4 linked regions of the Homo sapiens genome follow. The protein of the gene in region 1 interacts with the protein of each later gene in a biochemical or structural test. Each region holds a gene or a part of one and is shown in the gene's direction. Other genes may lie near its edges.

Region 1 (7,702 bases):
ACAGATAGTATTAGGTTGCTGCAAAAGTAATGGCAGTTTTGCCCATTAACCTAATAAAAGGAAAAATAAAAGGATATTATGAGTAACTTTATTCTAATAAATTGGACAACATAAATGAACAAATTCCTTGAAAAACACAAATTATCACAATTGACACAAGAAGAAAAAGAAAATCTGAATAGTTCCATACTTTTTTTTTTTTTTTCTGCAACATAGTCTTGCTTTGTCGCCCAGGCTGGAGTGCAGTGGCGCAATCTCGTCTCACTGCAACCTCTGCCTCCCGGGTTCAAGCAATTCTCCTGCCTCAGCCTCCTGAGTAGCTGGGATTACAGGCGCTCACCACCATGCCCAGCTAATTTTTGTATTTTTAGTAGAGACGGGGTTTCATCATGTTGGCCAGGCTGGTCTTGAACTCCTGACCTTGTGATCTGCCTGCCTCGGCCTCCCAAAGTGCTGGGATTACAGGTATGAGTCACTGTGCCCAGCCAACTTTTATTTCTTTTTTGAGACTGAGTTTTGCTCTTGTTGCCCAGGCTGGAGTGCAATGGTGCAATCTCGACTCACTGCAACCTCCGCCTCCCGGGTTCAAGTGATTCTCCTGCCTCAGCCTCCCAAGTAGCTGGGATTAAAGGCAGCACCACCACGCCTGGCTAATTTTGTATTTTTTTTTAGTAGAGACATGTTTCACCATGTTGGCCAGGTCAGTCTTGAACTCCTGACCTCAGGTGATTCACCAGCCTCGGCTTCCCCAAGTGCTGAACCTTGATATGAAAATTTGGTGAAGATATTACAAAAAAAGAAAATTATAAATCAATATCCCAGCTGGACGCAATGGCTCACACCTGCAATCCCAGCAGTTTGGGAGGCCGAGGCGGGCAGATCATCTGAGGTCTGGAGTTCGAGACCAGCCTGGCCTACATGGTGAAACCCTGTCTCTACTAAAAAATACAAAAATTAGCCAGGCGTTGTGGTGCACACCTGTATCCCAGCTACTTGGGAGGCTAAGGCAGGAGAATCACTTGAACCCGGAGACGGAGACTGCAGTGAGCCGAGATCGCACCACTGCACTCCAGGCTCGGCAATAGAGTGAGAGTCTGTCTCAATAAATAAATAAACAAACAAACCAATATCCCTCATGAACACAGATGCAAAAATCTGCATATCTGTTAATGCTGCAGTTTCATTTCTAGGAGTTTATCCTAAGGCACTCTTAGAGCTGTATAAAGATTAAGAGTCTGTTTATCAAGAAGAGTCATATGATTTTTTTTAAAAAAAGATCCTGTTTCTACAAAAAATAAATAAAAATTAGCCAGGCATGGTGGCTCCAGCTTATAGTTCCAGCTACTCAGCGGGCTGAAGTGGGAAGATCACTTGAGCCAGGAGTTGGAGGCTGACGTGTACCACTGCACTCCAGCCTGAGGGAGAGACAGTGACCCCATCTCAAGAAAAAAAAAGAAAAAAGATGAACTATAGGATAGCTAGGATATTTACCACAGCATTATTTTAATAGTAAAAATGGGAAACAAATGTTCCCCAAAATGTGACCAGTTAAATAAATATGGTACATTTATATGCTAGAATACAAAGCCATTAAAATAAGGTAGAAATATTTGAAACAGGAAAATTCACGATATATTGTTTATTTTCTTATTTGTTTTTTGAGACAGAGTCTTGCTCTGTTGCCCAGACTGGAGTGCAGTGGCGCGATCTCAGCTCACTGCAAGCTCTGCTTCCCGGGTTCACGCCATTCTCCTGCCTCAGCCTCCTGAGTAGCTGGGACTACAGGCGCCCGCCAACCAAGCCCGGCTAATTTTTTGTATTTTTGGTAGAGACGGGGTTTCACCGTGTTAGCCTGGATGGTCTTGATCTCCTGACCTCGTGATCCGCCCGCCTCGGCCTCCCAAAGTGTTGGGATTACAGGCGTGAGCCACCGCGCCCAGCCAATATATTGTTTATTTTCAAGGTAGATTACCAAACAGTATTATGCAATGACCCCACATTTTTCAAAGAAAAATATGTATTGATATTTATATGTAAGGGAAAAAAAGACTAGAAGGACATTAACCAAATGTCAAAAGTGGTTAATTATTGGATGATGAGAGTGTGGGTGACTTTTATTTCCTTCCTTTACTTATAGGTATGTCTTACAACAAATACATATTGCTTTTTTTTTAAGAGAGGATCTTGCTCTTTCACCACACCTGAGGTGCAGTGGAACCACCACGGCTCACTGCAGTTTTGACCACCCAGGCTCAAGCTATCCTCCCCACCTCAGCCTCCCAAGTAGCTGGGACCACAGGTGCGTGCTACCATACCTGGCTAATTTTTACAATCTTCTGTAGAGATGAAGTCTCTATATTGCCCAGGCTGGTCTGGAACTCCTGAGTTCAAGTGATCTTCCCGCCTCAGCTTCCCAAATTACTGAGATTACAGGCGTGTCCAGGAGCTTTTCTAATACAAAAGTTATTACTGAGAATAACTTTAAAAAAAAAATCTGTCGGCCGGGCGCGGTGGCTCACGCCTGTAATCCCAGCACTTTGGGAGGCCGAGGCGGGCGGATCACGAGGTCAGGAGATTGAGACCATCCTGGATAACAAGGTGAAATCCCGTTTCTACTAAAAATACAAAAAAATTACCCGGGCGTGCTTGCAGGTGCCTGTAGTCCCAGCTACTCGGGAGGCTGAGGCGGGAGAATGGCCTGAACCCGGGAGAAGAGCTTGCAGTGAGCCGAGATAGCGTCACCGCACTCCAGCCTGGGCGACAGAGTGAGACTCCGTCTCAAAAAAAAAAAAAAAGAAATCTGTCCAGTGGAGATTTTTGTACCCCTCCCATCACATTTCTTAGGAAGAAAATATCTGGGGCTGTGAGATGTTCCATTTTACCCTCAACCTCAACTATACCCACCCTGAACCACTGGATACAATTTTCTCTCACTGGGTGCACGGTGCTTCTGTCCTAATGGTCCAACCTTCTCAGTAGGTGAGGCAGTATGAGCTTTGCCACTCACCTACTGTGTGGCTTTTGGCAAGATCCTTCCCTTAGTTGGGCTCCAGTTTTTTCTTCTCTATAAATTCAGGAGCTAGAATCAATGATCTGCAAGGTCCTTTCTGGATGTAGCGAAAAGGAGACATTTAGAATCAGAAAACGCCAGGGGTAGATTTCAGAATGTGGGCATTACCTCCCAGCAAAATATTCTTTACTATTCTCCTGTGTAAGGCCTCTAGCCCTGGCTTGGCTCCGTATCTCACACCAGTCATGGTGTAGGGCTGGGCACAGGGTAGGTGCTCAGTGATTTAGCTTTTTGTCTCCATCTCCTAAAAAACAATTCCAAATATTCTAGGTTTGATTTTCAGCGGACCCTCCTGATGGGTATCTGGAGCACGAGGTTGGTTTTTTTTTTTTTTTTGGAGATGGAGTTTTGCTCGTCGCCCAGGCTGGAGTGCAATGGCGTGCTCTCGGCTCACTGCAACCTCTGCCTCCTGGGTTCCAGCGATTCTCCTGCCTCAGCCTCCCCAGTAGCTGGGTTTACAGGAACCTGCCACCACTCTCGGCTATTTTTTTTTTTTTTTTTTGAGACGCATTCTTGCTGTTGCCTAGGCTGGAGTGAACTGGCGTGATCTCGGCTCACGGCAACCTCCGCCTCCCGGATTCAAGCGATTCTCCTGCCTCAGCCTCCCGAGTAGCTGGGACTACAGGCGCCTGCCACCATGCCCGGGTAATTTTTGTATATTTAGTACAGAAGGGGTTTCACTGTGTTGGCCAGGCTGGTCTCGAATTCCTGACCTCGTGATCCGCCTGCCTTGGCCTCCCAAAGTGCTGGGATTACAGGCGTGAGTGACCGTGCCCGGCCTAATTTTTGTATTTTTAGTAGAGATGGGGTTTCACCATGTTGGCCAGGCTGGTCTCGAACTCTTGACCTCAGGTGATGCGCCAGCCTCAGCCTCCCAAAGTGCTGAGATTACAGGGGTGAGTCACCGCGCCCAGCCGTTGGTTTTAACTATTTGGGGCACACACTGTGATTTTTTTTCTGACGCAGCTGGTACAGTGCTTGCTTGTAACAATTTGCAATTCACTAAGCTGAGCAGAGTCTGGACACCTCGAAGGCACACATACATGCCAGTGGCTGAGAACACAACATTCAAATCCTCTCCATCTGGGGCCTTGGTCCGGAAGGCCAATCTCACTGCAACCCGAGCGGCTATGAGACATCTCCCTCGTGGCAGGTGCCCGAGCTGTAGCCACGCGGCCTCTGGAAAGAGATGTGCTAAGTCCCAGGACTTCAGAAGAGCTCTGTGACCTTGGCCAAGTCCCTTCCTCCTTCAGGAGCGCTGCAGTGGGCCTAAGTGCCTCCTCCCGGGACTAGTACGGGGACGGTCGTGAGATCTGGACAACATTCGCCTTTTAATATTTATTGATCTTTTGTGACACGCGCGTGGGTTTCCATCAGCAATGAAGTCAACGGTCGCGGCGCTGGAGCCTGCAGAACTCGCGCTCTAGATCTCGCGAGATCTCCGCCCAGGGCTTCGCAGCGTCACGCCCTCCGGGGCCGTGGCGGCGACGGCGGTGCGTAGCTTACTCACAGGGGCGGCCCGTATCCCTCCGCCGCCGGCGCGGCTCGGCCCTCCCTCCCCTGGCCCGCCAATCCCCGCGCCTCCCGACCTGCCCCTCGGTCGGGCCCACCCCGTGCTCCGACGGCCCCACCCCGGCGGCGCAGCCCGCCCGCCCGCGCGTCCCTCGGTCCACCTGCAGCAGGGAGGAAGACAGGCAATCCCTCCGGCTGTCCGACCAAGAGAGGCCGGCCGAGCCCGAGGCTTGGGCTTTTGCTTTCTGGCGGAGGGATCTGCGGCGGTTTAGGAGGCGGCGCTGATCCTGGGAGGAAGAGGCAGCTACGGCGGCGGCGGCGGTGGCGGCTAGGGCGGCGGCGAATAAAGGGGCCGCCGCCGGGTGATGCGGTGACCGCTGCGGCAGGCCCAGGAGCTGAGTGGGCCCCGGCCCTCAGCCCGTCCCGCCGGACCCGCTTTCCTCAACTCTCCATCTTCTCCTGCCGACCGAGATCGCCGAGGCGGCCTCAGGCTCCCTAGCCCCTTCCCCGTCCCTTCCCCGCCCCCGTCCCCGCCCCGGGGGCCGCCGCCACCCGCCTCCCACCATGGCTCTGAAGAGAATCCACAAGGTAAGCGGCCGGAGGTCGGCTGCGCTGCTGGCCAGCTGAGCAGGCTGCGGCCTGCACTTCCCGCCGTAGTCTCCGTCGGGCTCGCGGCCTCCTTGGATCTTGCTGCCGGTGCTGGCCCCTCGGGGCGGCCTCCATACCCCACTCCCAGTGATGGCGCCCGTGGAGGCCCCGGCGCGCAGCCCGCGCTTAGGCCGGAGGTGCTCTCGCGGCCTCAGCGTTCCTCCCCGGCTGCCCTTCCAGGCCCGCATGGTGTGGACTCTTAGGGCTTCTCTCCAGTCTGGGACTGCCGCTGCACTTGAGGGCCATTGTCGGGCCAGGATGGCGGGGTTGGGGCCGAGGGGGGCGCTGGGGCGTTGGGCGGCCCCTTCGACAGAGGTCGAAAGGGCTTCTCGCCCCATTTCTGTTCCCTCCTCCCACACCTGCCCTAGCTCCCTCCACAAAACCGCCTGAGCTCGGGCTGACAGAGGAAGCCGTTTTGCCCGATCCACAAGTATATCCTGAGTTCACTTACCTCTTGGGTGGCAGCACACATCGGTCCACCCTGCTTGTCCAGAAACTGTTAAGAGTTGGAAGTTCAGAAGAAAAAAAAAAGGTGACTTAATGAGGGAGGAGGGAAGTAGAGGGAGAATCATTTTATTCCTTGAGGTTGCTGTATGTAGTTAGAAACTAACACTTCCGTTTTGCAGGATTGGATCTAATAGAAAAGCTGTACATTGGCAAAGGTAGAGGTAGAAACCTGAACATTGAAAACCACCAGAGAAATTATACAAAAGTTCCTTTCACAGCCTCTTCGCAAAATGGACTTGACGCTATTAGGTGATATGTTTACCGAGACTCTTAACTGGGAAGGGGTTTTACTAGATTTTGTATTAAAAAGGATTTCTTTGCTCTTTAAAGTGAAGGGTTATTTAGTTATCAATAAGGAGGTTTTCCTAATAATACATCTAGACTATAAGATTGGCTTAAAATTTATTTTTTTTCCCTTTCTGATGTTGTAACCTCTTAGTGCCACTTTCATGTTTTTTTTCTTAGAAGTAGGGAGGCACCACTATTAATTTCTGTTTGGTGTTTCACTTGGCTACTCAGATTGGCTATATTAAACCGGTAGCTACTTTTTTCTTCAATACATCTTTTTCCTTTTAGTGGAGAACGGGGTCTTGCCGTGTTGTCCAGGCTGGTGTGGAACTCCTGGGCTCAAGCTAGCCTCCTGTCTCTGCCTCCCTTAAGTGTTGGAATTACAGGCATCAATCAGCCACTGCACACGGCCTATACCTGTAGCTACTTAGAAGTAGGTACTGGGGTTATCCATTCTGAATGATGGGATGGGGATGCAAGAGGAAGAGAACCAGTTTTTAGCTTGTCTTAAACTAAGTCAGAATACAGATTGATGATTTAAACACCTCAGCTCAGCGGTTGGTCCTCATTTCATTTTTGCTCAAAGACAGTGTGGAATCAGTCCCATTGGTTACTATAATTAGGTTAGCTCCTTAACTTCTTTTGACTCTGATTTCTAACAAATGAAGAAGGGCAGATTTTAGACAATAAATCTTGTACTAAAATGAAATGGTATTTGTTAAATACCATAAAGAAGCTTGAACCTTAAGCAAAGATGTCTTAAAGAACCGTTTAAGGGGCAGGGGAGCACACTGAGGAGTAGTCATCCAAAAAAAATATATACATATGTATTTTAAAGGCTTTTAGGAATTGCTAGGTCCTTATAGAATCTAACTGGGAAGTTATCAAATACCTGTAGAAGCTTGTCCTCTTATTTTATAACCTGAGAAAGAGCAAGTGGGTATAATGTGTAATAATTTACAGATAAAGAAATGTAGACCTGCCGGGCGCGGTGGCTCACGCCTGTAATCCCAGCACTTTGGGAGGCTGAGGTGGGTGGATCACGAGATCAGGAGATCGAGGCCATCCTGGCTAACACGGTGAAACCCCGTCTCTGCTAAAATATACAAAAAAAACTAGCCGGGCTTGGTGGCGGGTTCCTGTAGTCCCAGCTACTCTGGAGGCTGAGGCAGGAGAATGACGTGAACCGGGGAGGCGGAGCTTGCAGTGAGCCGAGATCGCGCCACTGCACTCCAGCCTGGGCCACAGGCGAGACTCCCTTTCAAAAAAAAAAGAAATGTAGACTTTAATCTCTACATTGAATTATATGTGTAACGGACTTTTTCAGAGAGGGAACTATCTCTTTGACACAAAACATACGTTTTAATTAATAATACTTGCTCTGGTAATATAGTTTCTTATGAGTTGCTACATATTTTCTAGAATAGATTTTCCTTAAAATATGCCTTTGTAAGATTTTTTTAATAAAATCAAGTTTAGAAATAATTTGAACTTTTTTGGGGGATAGAGTTTCAGTCTTGTCGCCCAGGCTGGAATGCAATGGCACGATCTCAGCTCACCGCAACCTCCACCTCCTGGGTTCAAGTGATTTTTCTGCTTCAGCCTCCCGAGTAGCTGGGATTACAGGCACGCACCACCACACCTGTCTAATTTTTGTGTTTTTAGTAGAAACGGGGT
Region 2 (7,260 bases), on another chromosome or scaffold:
GTGGACGGCACACAGGGCAGCCATCCCACCCCAACCTCCCCTCACCTGGAGGCACAGGCACAAGGGTCAACAGGTGGCTCCCGGGCAAAGGTGTCCTCCCACCTGGTGAGTTAGAGAGGAAGGTGTTAGGTGTGAGGCAGGAAAGAAGATAAGAAAGAAGACAGGCAGCTTCGGCCCTCCAGGAGCGGGGACCCCCCGCCACCCCCACAACCCATGCCAACTTCAGGTGTCCAACACCAGATGGGGCTGCTCCCTCCATCCCCAACTCAGGTTCTCCCACCCCCTCCCAGCTGGACAGACACCAAAATCCTGGCCCAGGCCTGGACTCCAACAGTGGGACGAATCAAACAGTTCCAGTTCTACACACATTTCTATTTTATTATGGAAAAGGTGGAAACGCCACCTTCTCCACAACAGCAACCAGTAAAATTTATCCCAAAAATAACTCGGTACAAAACAGGTCTGTTTCAGAATTAAAAAAAAAAAAAAAGAAAAAAAAAAAACCTTTACATGAGTTTTTAAATCCTATTTTAAAACATAAAAGAAACAAATCCATCATTGGCCGCACAGCCCCAGCCACCGCCCCCCAACCAGGGAGCAAGAGGAGACGCCTGGGTCCTGTTCCGCACGCGGATTTGCTGGTCTGTTTAACTGGTGTCCATCTGAAACACAGAGGAGAAAGAGGCTTGCATTCACAGGCGGCCTGCTCCCCACTGCGGCTTTGACCAGGCCCCCAGCTGGCTCCCCCGGGACTCACTCTCGCATTATAGGCGTCCAGCTGGGCATCCAGCTCCTCTGCCGAAAGCTGCTGCTTTGAATTCCTGCCGGCACCTCTGCCTCTTCCACGGGCGCCTCCGCGGGTGCCTCTCCGGGTGCCTCCACCACCACCAAAACCTCCAGCGCCACGGTTTCTAGTCATGCCACCTCTGTTTACGCTAGCAAGGAAGACGAAACCGTTCACACACCCGGAAGGACCCTAAGAGCGACGCAGCCTCACCCTCGGCCAATCCCCTTCCCCAGAGGCCCCGGAAGTCACCTCTGTGCAGGCCTCCGCTGTGCGTCAATCTGTGACGTGACAAGCTGAATGTTCATGGGGCGGCCTGCGGCAAAGAATACGAGAAGGCACGTTCTATTGAGAGGCTCTGAAACCCACCCAGCTGGCGCCACACCCTGGTCTCCATGCAAACACTGGAAAGGGCCTCTGTGCGTCTCAAATGCCCCCGACAAGGGAAATGGCCTGGAGATACTGGTGGGAGAACAAAATGGCAAGGAAGCAACCCCACCAACACCTCCTCACTCCTTCTCAGTCCAGACTAGGTGGGCTGCTCGCTGAGGTATCGGGGTGCTCGTGGGTGGAGAGGTGTGGGTGACCTGACGAAGAAGAACCGGTACCTTTGTCTTTACGACTACAGCCCCGCACTCAGAGGTGTACTATGGCGGTTCTGAGAAGGCTTCACAGAAGTGAATCTTCCGGAAGGAGCTGAAGGAGGGGAGGGATGTAGCTTGCTGGATGGGGGTTCACAAGAGGTTGGTCCAGATGTGTGGGGCAGCATGAGAGGTGGCAGATGGAAGAGAGAGACAAAGGGGCAAATGCAAAGTGTCCTCAGCCACAGGGGTACCCCATATTCCTACCTGGACAGGTGCCAGCCCCAAACTCCACAAGCCCCACAGTCAGCGTGGGTCCACCCCCAGACTCACCATCCAGAGGGACGCCGTTGTACTGCTTCATGGCCTTCAGGGCATCTGCCTTCCGCTCAAAGTGCACGTCTGCTGTTCCTAAGCTGCGACCAGAGCGATCATAGTGCACAGCCGCCTTCTTCAGCGTTCCAAATTCAGCAAAGAGTTCCTGGGAGTTGCAGAGAGCAGTTGTCAGAAAAGCAACAAAACTGCGTTCCTTCTGGTGGCCCAGGGACAGGCCCTGGAAGCGTGAGTTGCTTTGGGGGTGGTTCTCTGGGAGGCAGGACAGTGGTTAACGGGAAATGAGGGAAGGGCGGGGCAGGAGGGACAGCAACTTCCAAGAGCACCTGGGTCTGAGGGCTCCTGCCATTGTGGGGACCTGACACGTGTACCACGATGCAGGTAGAGGAAGCTGCAAAGCCCACTAGCAACGGGCACAAAATTAAGCCACTATCCTCTTCAACAAAGGAAAATGTACAACACACCCAAGGGCTGTTCCAAGAAACGGTAAAGGCCAAAATCAAGAGCAAGGGAAGCAGTCCGATATCAGACCAGCTTGAAGGGCCTGTAGATTCGGGAGCCCTGACCCCAGCCCCTCCCCCAAAGGCAGATTCTGGCTCACCTTTCCCTCTCCTCCTACTCAAGCCTGCGGCAAAGTCTGAAGTCAAGCGCTGTCATGGAAACTGCCCTGACCTCAGGCAGGCTGGGAGTTGGAGAGGGAACCCAGAGTGTGGGGATACTCCGGCCGCAGGCACACAGCGGGAACTGGAGTTCACCAAAAGCGGTTTCCAGTGGATGCTAGAAACCACCTTAAAAAAAGTGTTGAGACACTGTGAGTGCTCACTGGCCCTACTCTGTCCTCCCAAGGCAAATGGCTGGGCTGTGGGCAACTGAACCCTGCCCAGCCATCTCCAAAACTGATTCCCAAAAAGTCATTTCTTAACCAGAAAACAAGTTGAAATGCCATTGGGATTCAATTTTTCTTTTTTTAAAAAAGAAAAGCTTCAACCAAAGATGGATTTGAGAGTCATGTCACTGACGGGACACGGCGGTGGGGAGTGATAAAACCACAGCGTACAAGGTCTTTATAAGACAGTACTCAAGGCAAACAGAGCCAGAAAAACAGACTCCCTGTGCTTCACAAGATACATAAAGAAGATTCTTTTTCTCACATTAACCCACTAAGACAGGCACAAAATTTAAAAAGCAACTGGGCTGGGTCTAACAGCCAAAAACCACTCACATTTGGTCAGTCTTTGTCCCTGTTAGAAACTGGAAGCCCTGGCAGGGGATTTTCACTCACAGAACCCATCTTCAGACTAACAGCAGCAGTTCCTCAGGCTCAGCTAGGCTCGCACCTGCCTGCGCACTGACCCCGGCTTTACTAGCACTGGGTCTGTCCTGCAGCCCTTCAGAGCTGGGAGGGCTCCCTTCGCTAAGGCGGGAAGGGGACTCAGGGCCACATCCCCAAAATCACGATCCGTCCTGTGCAGGGCGAACGGCTCACCGAGAAGCCCTCGTCTCTTACCTGAATATCGGCGTCTGAGACTCCAAAATCCAGATTGGACACCAGCAGTTTCCCACCTGTCTCCACGCCGGCACCACCGCCGAAGCCACTGTCGAAAAGATCGTGCTGCCACTTGTCGGGAAGTTGTTTTGGCTGAAAAAAAAACCGCAACAAGAGCAGATCTGTGAGTCTCAGTCCAGGGCTTTCCTGACCCTCACGGCTACTCCGGACCCTTCCTCTTCCCGGCCTGAGAGGATCCGGCCGAAACGGGGCCGCCAGCGCTCCCTCCGGCGCTGCAGCTGCCCCAGCCCGAGGCCGCACGGTCCCACCGCGGCCGCACAACTTCAGTTCCCTTAGACTAACTTCCCGCCGCCTGTGCCGCGCCCAGCGTCCCCTCCTCTCCTGCCACGAGGCCCCAACGTCCGGAACAAACAAAGAGCTGGGAAGGGTCTCAGCCTCCGGGACCGGACCCCGAAAGAACGACCTCGCTCCCGCCCACCACCCCCTCCGCGCCCACACGCACCCTCCGGACCTCCGGGCGGCCGCTCCACCAGCCTTATCCACCCGCCGGCCCGGGTCTCCGCCGCGAGCGGCCCCGGCCCCAGCCCCGGCTGGCCCCCTCCCACTCTCCGGCGCGGCCGGCCTCCGCACTCACCCTGCTGTAGGGCGCCGGTCGGTTCCTGCCGCCTCCGCCGGCCGCGCCGCGGGCGATGGCCGGCCGGTTCCGGATGGGCCCGCCGCCTCGATTCACTCGCGCGGCGGCCTGCGCCCCACCGCCGCGGCCGCCCTGGGAGCCGGCCCGGCCGCGGCCCCGGCCCCCGCCCCGGCCGCCTCGCTGGCTCCGGTTCAGTTTAATGATGTCGTCCAGAGACATGTCCATTTTGTCGGCCATGGCGGGCGCGGAATCGGGCATCGGCTCGAGCCCGCGCGTCAGCACGCCGGCACGTCACTTCCGGCGCCGCGTGAGGCCTTCCGGTGCCACGGCCTCGGAGCGGCTGCTGATTGGCCGCTGGCGGACGGCTGCGCGCGCGGGACGGGGTGAGGCGGGGAGGCGCGTGCGCACTGGCGTGCGAGACTCGGCGGGCGCTGTTGAGGGAGTCGGGCCGCGACTGTGGTCGTTTTTATACCTTCCCGCGCGGACGCCGGCGCTGCCAACGGAAGGGCGGGTAGGGCGGTGCGTGATTAGGTTGGCGAAGGTGCGAGGGCGCAGGGGGTGGGGCGGCGGCCGTTGGAGGCGGAGCCTACGCGCCCCTCCCTCCCCGCACGCTCCGCCCGATCGGCCAGGGCTGGGGGCGCTGGGGGCGCTACGGGCGCGGCGGGTGCCTGGGAGCTGCTGGGAGTCCTTGTTTCCGCTCCCGCCCAGGACTGTGCGCTCGGCTCGCGGTGGGGTCCGGCGGGCGCGGCTTCGGCGGGCGGCAGCCGCTGCAGACGAGCTGCGGGTTGGTTTTTTGGTCTCCACCTGCAGCCCCCCCAAGTCTGCACTGTCACATTTTGCCAGTCATATCCTTTACAAGTTTTCTTGCGGGCCGGGCGCGGGCCTCACGCCTGTAATCCCAGCACTTTGGGAGGCCGAGGCAAGAGGTTCGCTTCAGCCCAGGAGTTTGAGACCAGCCGGGGCAACATCGTGAGACCCCCATCTCTAAAAAAAAAAATGAGCTGGGCATGGTGGTGCACTTCTGTACTACCAGCTACTTGGGAGGCCGAGGTGGGAGGATTGCTTGAGCCCAGGAGGTCGAGGCTGCAGTGAGCCGTGGTGGCACCACTGCACTCCAGCCTGGGCGACAGAGCCAGACCCTGTCTCCAAAAAAAAATTATTTTTGCAACTTATTAATGAAAACCAGTGTGCCATTTCATTGATTTTTTTTTTTTTTTTTTGAGGCAGTCTCATTCTGTCGCCCAGGCTGGAGTGCAGTGGGGCGATCTCGGCTCACTGCAACCTCTGCCTCCTGGGTTCAAGCGAGTCTCCAGCGGCAGCCTCCCGAGTAGCTGGGACTACAGGCACGTGCCACCATACCTGGCTAATGTTTGTATTTTTAATAGAGACAGGGTTTCGCCATGTTGGCCAGGGTGGTCTTGAACTCCTGACCTCAGATGATCCGCCCGCCTTGGCCTCCCAAAGTGCTGGGATTACAGGCATGAGCCACCACACCCAGCCCATTTCATGGATTTTAAGTTGTTTTGAGATACTTGCTTTTGTTTTTGTTTTTTGAGTCAGGGTCTCCCTCCGTCACCCAGAGTGGAGTGCAGTGGTGTGATCTTGGCTCACTGCAGCCTCAAACTCCTGGGCTCGAGCTATCCTCCCACGTCAGCCTCTCAGGCAGCTGGTGCACGCCACCACAGCTGGCTTTTTTTTTTTTTTTTGAGACAGTCCCACTATGTTGCCCAGGCTGGAGTGCAGTGGTGCGATCTCGGCTCACTGCAATCTCTGCCTCCCAGGTCCAAGTGATTCCTGTGGCTCAGCTTCCCGAATAGAGCTGGGAGCTGGCGTGATCTCAGCTCGCTGCAACCTCCGCCTCCCAGGTTCAAGTGATTCTCTTGCCTCACCCTCCCGAGTAGCTGGGATTACAGTTGCCCACCACCACACCCGGCTAATTTTTTGTATTTTTAGTAGAGACAGGGTTTCAGTATGTTGGCCAGGCTGGTCTTGAACTCCTGACCTTGTGATCTGCCTGCCTCAGCCTCCCAAAGTGCTGGGATTACAGGCGTGAGCCACTACGCCTGGCCTCTAATTTTTGTTTTTTTGGTAGAGATGGGGTTTCACCATGTTGGCCAGGTTGGTCTCGAACTCCTGACCTCAAGTGATCCACCCTCCTCGGCCTCCCAAAGTGCTGGGATTACAAGCATGAGCCACCACCTGCGGCTAATTTTTTTGTATTTTTTGTAGAGACGGAGTTTCGTCATGTTGGCCAGGCCCATTTGAGATCTTTGAAGATATCCTCAACGTGAGGTAAAACCAAACTCCTGACTGTCCTGTGCTCCCAAATGTGATCTCCTTGTCCGTAAGGAGCTGAGTCCCTTCCCTTGGAGAGAAGAGTGTGCCCTTTCTCTAGATGGCTAAAGAAACCTCACAGATAGTTCTTTTTTTTCCTTTTTTTTTTTTTTTTTTTTTGGTAGAGACTCAGTCTCACTGTGTTACACAGGCTGGTCTCAAACTCCTGAGCTCAGGCGATCCTCCCGAGTTGGCCTCCCAGAGTGCTGGGATCACAGGTGTGAGCCACAAAGCGGATTGCTGCTGGGGCTTGCTGTTCTCCCGTAGCTCCCCTGCAGCCCTGACCCTCTGGGCCCAGAGCCCTTTACTTGTTATTTGTTTTAATAGAAACGGGGCTCATAGCAGGGCATAGGGGTTCACGCCTGTAATCCCAGCACTTTGGGAGGCCGCAGTGGCAGATCGCTTGAGGCCAGGAGTTCAAGACCAGCCTGGCCTACATGGTGAAACCTCGACTACTAAAAATACAAAAATTAGTCGGGCGTGGAGTCACGTGCCTATAGCCTCAGCTACTCAGGAGGCCGAAGCACAAGAAATGAGCTGAGATCATGCCACTGCACTACAGCCTGGGTGACAGAGTGAGACTCTGTCTCAAAAAAAAAAAATTAATAAAAATAAAAGTAAAATAAAATAGAAACAGGGCTCACGATGTTTCCCAGGCTGGGTTCGGACTCCTGGGCCGGTATGATCTTCCTGCCTTGGCCCCCTGAGTAGCTGGGACTGCACTGTGGCAGGCTTATACCTGTGTTGGTGCCTAAACGTTCTAGCTCTGCAGACTCAATTTAGCCAGTCGTCCTGTTCCCTCCGCCGCAGGCTCTGCTGCCATGAAGGTGAAGATTAAGTGCTGGAACGGCGTGGCCACTTGGCTCTGGGTGGCCAACGATGAGAACTGTGGCATCTGCAGGATGGCATTTAACGGATGCTGCCCTGACTGTGAGTGTCCCCTCCATGCTGTCTGAGCGGCCCCGACTGTGAGTGTCCCCTCTGTGCTGTCTGCTGCCTGCTGGACTAGCCTCAGTAGCTCCTGTTAAATACCTGCACGAAATACCCAGTTTCATTTTCTTTTTTTTTTTTTTTTTTTGAGACCGAG
Region 3 (7,021 bases), on another chromosome or scaffold:
ATCAGAGTAATGCTTGGCTTCATAAAATGAGTTTGGAAGTATTCCCCCCTCCTCCCTCCTTACTCCCTCTTCCCTCCCTCTTCTTCCTTCTTCCTCCTCCTCCCTTTTCTTTCTTCTTCCTCCTTCTTTCCTCCTCCTCCTCCTCTTCCTTCTTCTCCTCCTCTTCCTTTCTTCTTCTTTCTTCTTCTTGATAGAACTGTGCTATGAGGTCATCTGTTCCTGGGCTTTTTCTTTGTCAGAAGAGTTATGACTACTGATTCAATCTCCTTACTAGTTATAAGTCTTTTCAGATCTTCTATTTCTTCTTTATTTTAGTCTTGATAAATTACAAGTTTCTAGGAATGCATCCATTTCTTCTAGGTTATACAGTTTTTTGGTGAATAATTGTTCATGGTAGTCTCTTATGGTCATTTGCGTTTCTGTGTTATCAATGGTAACATCTCTTGGTTTTGATTTTATTTATTTTCGTCTTCCTTTTTACTAGTCAAACTAAAGCTTTGTTGATTTTACTTATCTTTTCAAAATCCAGCTCTTAGTTTTAGTGGTCTTTTCTATTGTTTTTGTAGTCTCTATTTCATGAGATTTTGTTATTTCCTTCTGCTAACTTTTTCTAGTTCCTTTAGATGTAAAATTACGGTGTTTATTTAAGATTTTTTTTAAATATAGGCGATTATTGCTATAAACTTTCCTTTTAGAACTGCATTTGTTCTATACATTTTGCTATGTCGCATTTCAATTTTAATATTTCTTGTGATTTTTTAAAATTTTCTTTTTGATTTCTTCTTTGACCCATTGATTATTCAGGAGTATTTTGTTCAATTTCCACATAGTTGTCAGCTTTCCAACTTTCATTCTGTTATTGATTTCTGGTTACATACCATTGTGGTCTGAAAAGATACTTGATAGGATTTCAGTCTTCCTCAGTTTGTTGAGTCTTGTTTTGTGACCTGCTGCATGATCTACGCTGGATAATTTTTCTTGTGTGCTTAAGAAGAATGTGTATTATCTGCTGTTTGATGGAATGTTCTGTATAAAGGTTGAGTATCCCCAATCCAAAAATCCAAAATCCAAAATGTTCCAAAATTTAAAACTTTTTGAGTACCAACATGATGCTGAAAGGAAATGCTCTTTGGAACATTTTTGGTTTTGCATTTTTGGATTAGGGATGCTCAGCTGGTAAACATAAGGCAGGTATTCCCAAATCTAAAAAATGTAAAATTCAAAACACTTCTAGTCCCAAGCATTTCAGATAAGGAATATTCAACCTGTATGTTAGATCCATTAGATCCAGTGTATAGTTGAAGTCCAATATTTCCTTACTGATTTTCTGTCTGGATGACCCATCCATTATTGAAAGTAGGATTTTTGAAGTCTTCTAGTATTATTGTGTTACTATCTATTAATGTCTTCAGATCTGTTAATATTTTCTCTGTTTATTTAGGTGGTCTGATGTTGGGTACATATATATATTTACAGATACTGTATCCTCTTGTGGAATTGGCCCCTTTCTCATTATATAATTACTTTCTCTGACTCTTTTTACAGTTTTTGATGTAAAGTCTGCCCTATCTGATAAAACTTTAGCTTCCTCTGCTCTCTTTTGGTTTCCATTTGCATGGAATATCTTTTTTCCTATACCCATGCATGTGCTTAAAGGTGAATTGAGTCTCTTGTAGACAACCTGTAGCTGAATCTTGTTTTCTTTATCCATTCAGCTGCTCTTTATCTTTTGATAGGAGAATTTGGCCCATTTACATTCAAGGTAACTATTGATGGGTAAAGACTTCTGTCATTTTGTAATTGTTTTCTGATTGTTTGGCAGATTATTTGTTTCTTCCTCTCTTGCTGTCTTCCCTTGTGTTTAGATGATTTTCTGTGGTGGTATGCTTTGATTCCTTTATATCTTTTGTGCATCTACTATTGGTTTCTACTTTGTGGCTATCATGAGGTTTACATAGAACATCTTATAGTTATAGTAGTCTGTTTCAAGCACTAACAACTTAATTTCAATTGCATTAAAAAACTGTACTGTTACTCAGACCCTCCTGCACATATTTTATGTTTTTGATGTCATTATTTGCATTTTATATTGTGTATTCATGAAAAAATTATTGAAGCTATAGTTATTTTTAATACTTTTTTTTAAAAACCTGTATTTTAGAATTAAGTAATTTACACATGACCATTACAAATTTAGTATATTATTAATTTGATTATATATTTATCTTAACAGTGAGTTTCATACTTTCATATGTTTCCATGTTGCTAATTAGTGTCCTTTCATTTCAGCTTGGAGAACTCTTCAGCGTTTCTTGTAAGGCGCGTCCAGTGGTGATAAACTCCCTCAGCTTTTGTTTGTCTGGGACTGTTTATATCTCTTTCATTTCTGAAGGACAGCTTTGCTGGGATACATATTCTTGTCTGGTAGTTTTGTCTTTCAGCACTTTGAATATATCATCCAACTCTCTCCTGGCCTACAAGGTTTTTGCAGAGAAATCCACTTGTGGTCTTATAGGGTTTCTCTTGTAGAAGATGAGTTTCTTTTCTGTTACAGTTTTAAAATTCTCTTTCATCTTCTATTTTTGCCAGTTCATTATAATGTGTGTCAGTGAAGTCTTCTTTGGGTTGAATCTTTATGGGGTCCTATGAACTTCCTGTACCTGGATATCTTTCCCTAGATTTATGAAGTTTTCAGCATTTTTTTTTTAAATCAGCTTTCTGTCCTTTCTCTCTTTTCCTTCTTGAATTCTCGGGTTTGTTTTTCATTTTCTTGGGTTTTTTTTTTTGATGGTGTCTTGTTCTGTCACCCAGGCTGGAGTGCAGTGGCATGATCTCAGCTCACTGCAACCTCCACCTCCCAGGTTCAAGTGATTCTCCTGCCTCAGCCTCCCACGTAGCTGGGACTACAGGTGTGCACCACCATGCCCAGCTAATTTTTGTATTTTTAGTAGAGACGGGGTTTTGCCATGTTGGCCAGGCTGGTCTTGAACCCCTGACTTCATGTGATCCACCCGCCTCAACCTCCCAAAGTGCTGGATTACAGGTGTGAGCCATCGTGCCTGGCCTTGAATTCTTAAAATGCAAATATTGTTTTGCTTGATGGTGTCCTATAATTCAGGTAGGCTTTCTCCACTATTCTTTTTTTTTTCTTTTTTTCTCCTCTGACTAGATAATTTCACATGATCTGCCTTTGAGTTCACAGGTTCTTCTGCTTGATCAGGTCTGCTATTGATGCTCTCTATTGCATTTTTTGTTGTTATGTTCTTCAGCTCCCGAATTTGTTTCTTTTTATTATTCCTATCTCTGTGTTGAATTTCTCATTTGTTTGTATATATTTTTTTATTTCATTATCTGTGTTCTTTTGTAGCTCACTGAGTTTGCTTGAAACAATTATTTTGAATTCTTTATCTGTTAGTTCATAGATCTCCATTTCTTTGTGGGTGATTACTGGAAAATTACTGAGTTTCTTTGCTAATGTCACGTTTCTTTTTTTTTTTTTCTTTCTGTTTCTTGTGGCCTTGTGTTATCTGTGTATTTGATGGACGAATTACTTCTAGACATTACAGATTAGTGTGTTTTTTTTGTTTTTTTTTTTGTGGGCAAAGATCTTTGCCTGTGGGTGAGGGTGAGGGTGAGGGCGCCAGCCAGTAGGTGTGGTGGTTCTGGCTCTGTGGAAGGCCCAGCATTGTGAACTCCATGCAGCTCCATTAGCCCAGATCATTGTCAGTGAGGATTGCAGGGGTCCTCAACATCCAAGGCTGCAGGTATCCATACCAGCAGCAAGGCTTTTTTTAGTCTATAGTGGCAGAGGCTGCTGGGGACCTCTTCATCACTTTTTCTCCCATGGGAGACATTGTGGCCAAGGGGATTCTTCTTGGCACAGGTTCTGGCTTTGGGCTTGTTGTGTTGGTGGAGGTGGCAGCACTGATGTCTCTGATGGCGTGGACACCTGTGGAGCAGCTACAGAGCCAAGGTTTGGAGTGCAAGTGTTTGCAGAAAGACAGCGGGTCTTGGGTTCAGGATGTTGACTAGCCTGCAGCAGTGGTGCTTCTAGTGCCTCAGATGTGGGTGCACGTAGAGCAGCCTTTGAGTTGGGTGCGGAGTGCAGGTGTGCAGAGCAGCCAGAGAGCTGGGATCTGGAGAGTGTGTGATTAGAGCAGCCACAGAGCAAAGGTCTTACATGAAGGTACATGTGAAGCAGCTGTGGCTCTGGGGTCTGGGGCATATGTGGGGGTTAGGGGCTGCACTGTCTGGGCAGTGCAAGAGCTGCTTTTTTTCAGGGTGAGGAGTGCAGTAGTGTCTCCCTCTCCAGGGGGTTCACAGCAGCAATGGGTGCTGGTTACCTTAATGGTGAAAGCTGTCAGTGTCCTCTGCAAAGTAGGCTACTGGGGTTGGCATCAATGAACACTATAGGGTCCTTCACTGTGAAACCTGCAGGAAGTCTGTGGCTATCTTGAGGGTTATTGGAGGTCTCCAGGGACCTGCTCTGGGGAGGAGCCTAGCAGTCTTTGCCACTGAGGACTGTAATGGCACTCACCACATGACTGATACAGGTAGCCCTCACCCCTTGTTCTTAGCCATCTCCAGATGTCTCTGCTAAGCAGATCTCCCAGCAGTCCTTTCTGTGTGGTTATTCTCCCTTTTTTTTTTTTTTCCCTTTATTGCTGTAGGCTGATTGGGCTAGTGAGTTCTTCCAGAGCTGTATTTGTGTATAGCTGTCTGTTTGTTGTTTTTTGTGGGTGGAAGAAGGCTGATGTCTCCTAGTCTGCTGTCTTGCTGATGTCACTCTTGCAAACTTTCAGTCTGCGGCTTTTCATTTCTTTAACATTGTCTTTTGAAGAGCAGATGTTTTCAATTTTGATGATGTCAATTTATCAATTTTATCTTTTGTGGAATATGTTTTTGGTCTTTTGTCTAATAATTCTTTACCCAATGTAAAGACAAATAAAGACAAGGCTTTTTCCTAGAAGTTTTATTGTTTTTGGTTTTATATTTAGGTATATGATCCATTTTTACTATTTTTGCATATAATATGGGCATAGGTCAGTGTTCCTTTTTTTTAACATATGAATATTCTGTTGTATAGTATCATTTATTGAAGAAACAAAAGGAATAGAATAGATATAGATGGTATGTGAACTTCTTGGAACATCTTTGAGAAGCCCTATCAGTTTAAAAACAAATATTTGAGAAACACTGTCATATTATATATAGATAAAAATATTTGATTCCATATTTTTTGGAGGGAAGGTAGTGGATTCTGGCTCAAATGTAATGGAAGAGTGAACATTGAAGAAAAATGAGCAGTTATTGTATTGTGAAAGATCACATTTTAGGAATACTGAGTTAATAGTATCTGAAACTGTTAAGTAGTTCACTTTAAGCACAAAATAGATTGTGTATAATAGTGTTCTTCAGGAGTCAACTTGTTCCCCTTTGTAGGTGCAGACGCTTTTCTTTTTGTTGTTGTGTTAATGGATTGAATTAGAAAATACCGTGATATATAACACACAGAAGGATGTATATTGTTTTATGATAATTTTGTTCCTGTTAGATATGTATGTGTTCTGGGTTGTGACGTAAAATGTTTTTACTATGGAGTACAATGAAAGATTTGAAAGCCATTTTTCTAGAATGATCAGGTTATATTTGATATGAAACAATTTTAAAAAATAATTTTCCTCATATGTTTTAGGTGTGAGTTCTTGATACGAATGAAAGGCCAAGAGTTTGTTGATGAGATTCAAGGTAGATATCCTCATCTTCTTGAACAGGTAAATACATTTTTAAAATTAACAACATTGAATTCTGCTTTATAATAACAAAAATATTATTAGGTTGGTATAAAAGTGATCATGATTTTTGCCATTGAAAGTCATGGCCAAAACCGTGATCACTTTTGTACCAACCTATATTAGAAGTTATGCTTATTTCTCTTTTATTAATTGTAGGTACATACTTTCATCCATGTTAATGACATCTTTGGTTTTTACTTTTGTAACCAACTTGATTTTTGAGGGCTTTTTAAAAAAGATTGTTTTTTTGTTTTTACTATTTTGAAAAATCATTTATGCTGCCACTGTACAAATTTGTGATGGGATTGGAGAAGGATCTTTAGTGTCTCTTTGCTGTTTTCCAGAAAAACAAACAAAAAATAACTTGTTAGGAGCTGAGACCCTTGGAGAGTAACCCAGTTAAAATCTTATTTTCCAAATGAAATGAGAAACCACTGATACATTTTTCTACTTTCCTGAAACTAGAGAAATACTTGATTTCTAATTTGGGATGACATGAAATTTAAGGAAATCTATGTGATTAGGGTAAAAGAAAGCAAAGCAAAGGTCATAAATCACTCAGTTCTCAAAAGAACATATACATTTACTTAAAGTAAGCTTATTTTAGTGTTGTTCTTTTCAGATTGTTGGGGATATCTGCTTTTACCTATTAACTTTTCTCTTGTTTCATAGCTGTTGTCAACTTCAGATACCACTGGAGAAGAAAATGCTGACCCACCAAGTATGTATGAGATAATTTTAAGTATAGAGTGTAAATTTTTATAAGAATTTTAGGAATAGGCTGGGTGCAGTGGCTCATGCCTGTAATCCCAACACTTTGAGAGGCCGAGGTTGACAGATCACCTGAGGTCAGGAGTTCGAGACCAGCCTGGCCAACATAGTAAAACTCCATCTACTAAAAATACAAAACTTAGCCGGGTGTGATGTGCCTGTAGTCTCAGCTACTCGGGAGGCTGAGGCAGGAGAATTGCTTGAACCCAGGAGGTGGAGGTTGCAGTGAACTGAGATTATGCCATTGCACTCCATCCTGGGCAACAGAGCGAAACTCCATCTCCAAAAAAAAAGGTAGGAATGAAAGTATGTATTTTTTAAAAGAGTTTCTGAAGCCATAGGGAAAAATACTGGGAAGTCAGCTAATAAATATTATATATATATATATATATATATATATATATATATACACACACACACAGAGAGAGAGAGAGAGAGAGAGAGAGAGAGTGTAA
Region 4 (7,237 bases), on another chromosome or scaffold:
TCTCAGGTGTCATTTTACAGGATGCAAAGAACAAACATGCTCCTATGCCCCTGCACCTGCCTCATGGGGAATGCTGCCCAACCTCCTGGGATTGCCTACAAAATTGAACTTCTATTATGAGAGAAACAACTTCCATCTTAATTAAGCTATTGTTATTTGGTCAGTGTTACAGAAGCCAAATTAATATTTTAATATATAATTTATAAATATTGATGATTACCACTACGTGTTAAATGAGCACATGATTGGTAAATATAAAACACACTATACATGTAAAGTATAGGTTGAACTATCCCTTATCTGAAATGCTTGGGACCAGAAGTGTTTTGGATTTGTTTTTGTTTTTTGTTCAAATTTGGAATACAGTCATCCCTCAGTCTCCATGAGGAATTGTTTCCAGGACCTCCTGCAGATACCAAAATCTTCAGATGCTCAAGTCCCTGATATAACATGGCGTAGTATTTGTATGTAACCTACACATTTCTACCTATATACTTTAAATCATGTCTATATTACTTATAATATCTAAAACAATATAAATGCTCCATAAATAGTTGCTATGCTCTATTGTTTAGGGAATAATGACTCAAAAAAAAAAGTCTGTACATGTTCAATACAGATAAAATTTTTATCCCAAACATTTCAATCCAAGGTTAGTTGAATCCATGGAGGCAGAATCTGTACAAAGAGCTGACTATATCTGTATTATATACTGATGGTCACGCCAGTTCTGAAAATCTGAAATCCAAAATGCTCAAAAGAGTTTTCTTTGAGTGTAATGTCAACACTCAAAAAGTTTTGTATTTTGGACCACTTCAGGTTTCAGACTTTTGGAATAGGAATACTCAACCTTTAATATTAAAAAAATTATTTATTCCATTCCCCTAAACTTTGAGCATAAAGCATCTATAGTCTTTTGAGAAGGAAAGCTGTAATAGAAAGCTTAGGCTGAACTCAACTTCTCTGTCACCATAACCCTGGGTCGATTTTCTAACTTGCTTCGTGATAAGCTTGTTCAGCACAGAAAGTATCTGACAAGATAAAGACAACAAAATACTGGGTTACTAGTTTCTGGTCATGGGCTCTATCACACCCCAAACAAGACTTTTAAAGGAAAATGAACTATGAAATCTTCAAGTTGTGTATCTCATATCTCTTTATAGGCAAGCACTATAAAAATGTGAATTTGAATATTATTTCATTGCAGGGCTTTTGTGATGCTTGTTTTCTTATAGAATGCAACAAAAATTTCATGGAAAGAAAGTCTAGTTTCTATTGAAGAAAAATATTTGACATTGAGATTTTAAAAATTTTGCCATTTACATTTATCATTATTTTTTCAATAATCTTGCACTCTCATATCCAGATTGTTTAAATAAGCATTTCTGCTTGCACAGCCCATTTGATGAAACATATTTATTATCAAGTTTATGTACTTGTATCACTATCGCACTCAGAGAAATATCAGGAGTCTCTGTATAACTCCTTATGATATATACAGTTCTTCATGTTTTAGGTGGAAGAGCATTGGAATGTTGACTTATCTAACTGGAAAAGTGGTTTGGAGGGTGTTGGCTCTTGGAGCATGAGGTTGCAATTAAGAAAAGCTGGAAATTGGCATACACGTCCTGAATCAAAATACACCTTCAGAAAGAGATGAGGACATTTTCACCTTATAATGCTGAGAAGTCTATACTGCTAAAGATAAAAATGGTGAAATGTAAATATTGGTTATGAAATTGAAAATTTTTATTTCCTGTACCACTGAAGTTATTTTGTATAAACGGTATTGTCCAGCCTTCTTTTATCAAGATTTGAATGTTGTTATTTTGGTTTTCCTCGGAGTACTAAGGGCAGGGACTTTGCTTTGCTGATCCCAAATCCCCAGAACTGTGCTTAGCAAACACTGGGTATTAAAAAAAAAAAAAAGAGAGACAGTTGTTGACTGAATAAATAGATGAATGGATAAATAATGTTTGCATTTAAGAATTACGATTTCCAATGGCAAGAGAGGTATTGCTAGTACAAGATTTTCCTTTAGAACATAAAAAGAGAAGATAATGGATCTCAATTAAGTTGTTTATAAAGAAGCCTGCTTCATAATCAATGTTTTTTTTAAGTCATGTAGGCATACTTATTACATTTGGCAATACAGAAACATCAGATTTTGCAGAACTATCTCTTTAGGTGTAAGATTATATTAAAGAATTAATATGATACAAGAATTATGAATACAGGTTTAGGAAAAAACAGAAAAGAACCCCAACCAGTAAAAAAAAAATTAAAGTATAACATTAAAAAACATCAAAATTGTAAATATTGTGTAGAAGAAAAACTAAATGATTAACCTGAATGGTTATGGTATTGCTGATAAATGCATCATCTTGACTCCTAGGAGAACCAATTTATGTGAAATTCCATGAAAAAGAATTAGTTACAACAAGCAGAATTTTAGTCCATTTCCAAGAATTTTAACTACTGTAAATCACCTGACACACTTCCCAATAATTAGGATATCGTTTTGCATAGCCACATGGGAACCTGGCCTAGAGGTCTATAGGTAATCTGTTTCATTCATGTATTTTAAGTATGTCGTTTAGGAATAAGTTATCAGGTTTGCAACCTATAAGCAAAGGAAATAATGTGACACTGGAAAACAACACTATTCATTTAACATAATGAATTGCCATGTAATAACTCAGATCTTCCCAGGGTGTAAATTACACAAATTTGAAAGATGCATTTATTATTTAATGCCTCATTCCCAGACAGTTGCTTACTCAGTAGCAAAATCTGTCTTAGCATACCAAGTGTAAAGCTATTTAACAAATAGGAAGGTTTAAAAAATATATACTATCATGCAGACAGCTAAAATATTTGTATATATTTTTAATCTTTTTTCTCTAATGATACTTAGAATATTTTATTTTTATTACTACAAATAATAGAGATGAAATATGAATTGTATTAGTAGCAGAGATATATGAGCTAAAGCTTGTATTGTTTAAAGCACATCATCTTAAAAGGCCTGTCAGGAAACAGTGTTCATATTAAGTTGGCTTTCAGTACTCTAAGAAGATGACATCATTTTGTAAGAGACAAGTGTTGTTAGAGCAAATGCTAGGATATTCTAAAATTTCCTAGGTTGAAGTGAAGAAATTTCTCATTATAGATTATTTCATGAGTTTATGTTCCCGGTTGTATATCAGCTCATGTTAAATTTTGCAAGAGTTTATGATTTCTAAGAACTCACCTTCTATAAGGCCCTTTGCTGAGTGGGGCTAGTTAGGAATTAGTAAGTAAAGGGGATCTTTTTTCCTCGTGTAAATAGCTTAAGAGTAATTTTGGGCGGTCCAGAAACCATAAGTTATCAGGAAGGTGCTTATAAATGGGCAGAGTACATCACTTGCCCAAGATTCTAACAACCTAGCCTGCCCCCCACACACTGTGGGGCACCGTTTGCTACTTGCCAAGTAACTGCCTTTTTTGGCAAAGACCACCCAGGACATGGCTCAGAGTCCATCCTAAGGCTGGCCAACCTCTGTAAATCTCGTGTCCCCTGATTCAGAGCGAGTGCATTTAATTCAGGAAGATCACTTACGACTGAGTTTTTCATCATGGCTTTGACTGTGAAACCCTCAGAAACCAGAGAGTGAGGCTGGTGCACCGGGAGCGGCTGTTGTGCCAGCAGCTTGGTCCTCTTCGGCATCTTGTCTGGGCATTTGTTTAAGCTCAGGGTCTCTTTTTCTGCCACCATCTTCCTAGAAAATGTCTTGTTCTCATAAAAAGTGTAGTAAAAGAATCAGTGGGCTTTACGGATGTGAGCAGGAGGTCTGGAAAAAAATATCAAAAGGCGCGATAATGGTAGAAATTCAACCCCTCGTAGTGCCCAGGTTGATCCAGATGTTTGGCAGCTCCTAGGTGAAGGGAGCTGGACCCTAGGGGCGGGGCGGGAAGAGGGCAGGACCTTGGCTAGAGCTGCAACAAGCTTCCAAAGGTAAGCCTCCCGGTTGCTAAGCGACTGGTCAACACGGCGGGCGCATAGCCCCGCCCCCCGGTGACGTAAGATTGCTGGGCCTGAAGCCGGAAAGGGCGGCGGTGGGGGGCTGGGGGCAGGAGGCGTGAGGAGAAACTACGCGTTAGAACTACGACTCCCAGCAGGCCCTGGGCCGCGCCCTCCGCGCGTGCGCATTCCTAGGGCCGGGCGCGGGGGCGGGGAGGCCTGGAGGATTTAACCCAGGAGAGCCGCTGGTGGGAGGCGCGGCTGGCGCCGCTGCGCGCATGGGCCTGTTCCTGGCCCGCAGCCGCCACCTACCCAGTGACCATGATAGGTACGTGGGTACCTGCCAGGTACAGCCTCTCTGCGCCGCCCCACGCCCCGGTATGGCGCCACGCCCCGCCTCGGCCGACCAGGACCCCCGGTGCCAACTGTCAATGACGGGGCCAAAGTGCCCGTGCCGTCCCCGGCCCGCGCCGCCGGGCTCCCCAGCTCAGCGACGCGGGTCCGGGGCCCCAGTGTGTGCGTTCGAAGCCCTCGCCTGCCCGCCCCTGCTCTGAGCGTTCTCATGAAGACCGCCTCGACGGGGACGCCAGGCGGCCCCGCACCCCCGCTCCTCGTTCGCGGTCCCCCGGACCGTGTGGGGTCCCGAAGCCTTCTCCCCGCCGCCGCCCCTCACCTTCGCCCCGCCGCCGCCCCTCACCTTCGCCCCTCACCTCACTGGCCGGTTGTGGTGCGGTTCAGGACCCATCGAGACCCACTCTCTGTGGGGCTCTTTCAGGAAACCGCAGCAAAGCATTAAACTCTAATGGAAGGCACCTGGTGAGGGTGGCTGGCTCCACAGAAACTCCTCCAGATAGATCTAAACTTGCTCCCTCGGATGTTTCCTTTTAAACTTCTCATTGGAGGGCTGAGATGAAAGAAACATTAAGAGTAAATAGTAGCCAAGATTAAATCTATTGCCTTTTGCAAAATAACCTTTCTTTTTTTTTTTTGTAAAAGAACGACCGAGGTGCAAGTTTGTGAACGAAACTTAGTGGCATCAGAGTTGTTCATGAACACTTGATGTGTAAGATGAGCAAAGGTCCTCTCTTCCAGGGTTGTTGAGCCAAAAGTTACTTTAGGGGCTATCCCTGAAAATTAATGGAAATGCACCATATGTTTGAAAAACAGTGCTAGATGGGGTTTCATTATTGTGGAGGTTTCTCCAGGTTATGTATGGAGGGTTTAGTGAGCTTGTTTATTCCTGAGGAGGGTCCTTTACAAAACACTTTTGATTGCAGTAAGTACGTTCGAAGTCAGATGTGGTCTGTCCAGAAGAAAGATGAGAGGTGGATTTATAAAGTATATGATCTTTATGCACTGAAAACACTTCTTACATCTGTTTATTTGTGAAGTTATTGTTAAAATGTAAACATTCTCCCCATCAGTGGGAGAATCAAGCCAGCTAACTGGCATGGTCTTTGTGGTAAAACAAGAATGTTGTCCAACTTTTCTTCCCTTTCTAGCATGGTCTGACTTTTGGTGAATGACTTGAAAGTTAATCAAATTACGAAAAAAATATTTTTTATGAGTCTTCTTGAGCTCTTTTTAGGTGACATTTACGTAAGATTCACTTGCAAGCACAAGTTTGAACTGAATCAGAAAACCAAGTAGAAGAGATTTTCCAATATCTGTGCTGTCAGTCTACAGGAAGAAAATAGCCTATACCTTATTTTGAAGACAGTTAAATACATTTTATTTTAATTTAACTTAATCTAGTGCACAGATAATTTTAAGAGAAACAAATTTATTGTAAAGCTATATAAAGACAAGCACTTAAGATCTAAAGAACATTACTCAGTTATAAGTTATGACCTAATAAGTGATTATATAAATAACTTTATTAGGATGAAATGTGTTTGGACAGTTCTGTTTAGTTTTATCTGGAATTCTTCCAATAAGGAAGAAATATCTTTGGAGTTGATGATTAAACAGTTATCAATTACTGGTAATGACATGGAGAATATAAGGTTGGTTTTTAAAAGTGTTATTTCTCTCACTCCAGCCATGGTTTTACATAGTGCAAATAAGTGTGCAGTACAACATAAATGATTAAATCCATGCCTGCTTTCCCTAGGAAATGTGCCTTACATATAAGATCATGGACAATGTGCAATAAAATATTCAACTAGTTGCATTGCCTAATTCTGAAATTAGACACACGTCTTTTTTTTTTTTTTTTCCTCTTTTTGAGACAGGTTCTGTCTCTGTCACCCAGGCCGGAGTGCAGTGGCACCATCACAGCTCACTGCAGCCTCCAACTCCTGGGCTCAAGTGATCCTCCCATCTCAGCCTCCTGAGTAGCTGTGACTACAGGTGTGTGCCACCATGCCTGCCAATTTTTTGTTATAGTTTTTGTAGAGATGGAGTTTCATAATGTTGCCCAGGCTGGTCTCAAACTCCTGGGCTCAAGCAATCCTCCCGCATTCGCCTCTGAAAGTGCTGGGATTACAGGCATGAACCACCACGCCCAGCCTCATTAGCCACATTTCAGTAAACATCTGAATGGTCAGTTTGGGATTTGGGTGTCGTGAACAGTGCTAAAGGTAGGTGAAAGTGAAAACCATTAAAAGGAAGCCTTGGAGTGATGGGTTTTGTGTTTTTGTGACAAAAATTCAGAGCCAGGAAAGACATTATAGACTTTATCCAGTGATCACTAAAATGTAAATAGTATGTATCTGGGATTTTCTGTTAAAGGTAAGAGTGCTTCTCAAAGCTTGCTCCTTTCAGGCCTATGCTTTCTCTAACTATTACACTCACCTTGTTGCGGGATTCGGGAGTATGAGGGAGACCTCAGGTTGAAGCAGGAGAATCTTTATTGAGTGTACTCAGGCCCAGCTGACTCACATCCAAAAGACTGGGCCCAGAATAAAGACAGTACTTGACTTTTATACACACTTCACAAACGGAGGTGGGCTAGCTTGAAGCAAGCTTACAGTGGCGTGAAAGCAGGGATACAGAGGCAGGACAAAGACAGGATTGCAGATGACCATTGCCAAGCAACCCAGATGTTCGTTTTCTAGGTTTGCCTGGGCACAGGCTTATCCTATAACCTTCTCTGTGGTGCCCAGGCAGCTGTAGTTCAGGCCTACTCAGGCTTTTTATGACCTTCGTTGTACTACTTAGATAAAACAGAATACTTGAAATCACTAGTTACAGAGAACAAGAGTCTATAAACTCATTCTGTAAAACAAAGGA

The links.
Region 2: the proteins of UBE2D2 (region 1) and ANAPC11 form a complex in vitro, tested with the Homo sapiens proteins (11 studies listed by BioGRID).
Region 3: the proteins of UBE2D2 (region 1) and BIRC2 form a complex in vitro, tested with the Homo sapiens proteins (9 studies listed by BioGRID, with this or other methods).
Region 4: the proteins of UBE2D2 (region 1) and PRKN form a complex in vitro, tested with the Homo sapiens proteins (8 studies listed by BioGRID).

Annotation. Positions count from the first base shown.
Region 1 is NC_000005.10:139,556,646-139,564,347, forward strand, and holds the start of UBE2D2 (ubiquitin-conjugating enzyme E2 D2), read left to right. Parts: upstream 1-4,693; 5' UTR 4,694-5,146; coding exon 5,147-5,170; intron 5,171-5,598; exon of another isoform or gene 5,599-5,762; intron 5,763-7,702.
Region 2 is NC_000017.11:81,887,484-81,894,743, forward strand, and holds the start of ANAPC11 (anaphase-promoting complex subunit 11), read left to right. Parts: upstream 1-4,239; 5' UTR 4,240-4,358; exon of another isoform or gene 4,359-4,380; intron 4,381-4,443; exon of another isoform or gene 4,444-4,623; intron 4,624-5,620; exon of another isoform or gene 5,621-5,704; intron 5,705-6,068; 5' UTR 6,069-6,131; intron 6,132-6,983; 5' UTR 6,984-6,994; coding exon 6,995-7,103; intron 7,104-7,260. Other genes in the region: ALYREF (THO complex subunit 4), read right to left, coding at 648-662, 758-935, 1,037-1,100, 1,699-1,846, 3,206-3,337, 3,840-4,097. UniProt on the Homo sapiens protein: Together with the cullin protein ANAPC2, constitutes the catalytic component of the anaphase promoting complex/cyclosome (APC/C), a cell cycle-regulated E3 ubiquitin ligase that controls progression through mitosis and the G1 phase of the cell cycle.
Region 3 is NC_000011.10:102,357,201-102,364,221, forward strand, and holds part of BIRC2 (baculoviral IAP repeat-containing protein 2), read left to right. Parts: intron 1-5,695; coding exon 5,696-5,774; intron 5,775-6,467; coding exon 6,468-6,516; intron 6,517-7,021. UniProt on the Homo sapiens protein: Multi-functional protein which regulates not only caspases and apoptosis, but also modulates inflammatory signaling and immunity, mitogenic kinase signaling, and cell proliferation, as well as cell invasion and metastasis.
Region 4 is NC_000006.12:162,724,756-162,731,992, reverse strand, and holds the start of PRKN (E3 ubiquitin-protein ligase parkin), read left to right. Parts: upstream 1-4,226; 5' UTR 4,227-4,324; coding exon 4,325-4,331; exon of another isoform or gene 4,332-4,451; intron 4,452-4,700; exon of another isoform or gene 4,701-4,861; intron 4,862-7,237. Other genes in the region: PACRG (parkin coregulated gene protein), read right to left, coding at 3,602-3,757. UniProt on the Homo sapiens protein: Functions within a multiprotein E3 ubiquitin ligase complex, catalyzing the covalent attachment of ubiquitin moieties onto substrate proteins. Substrates include SYT11 and VDAC1.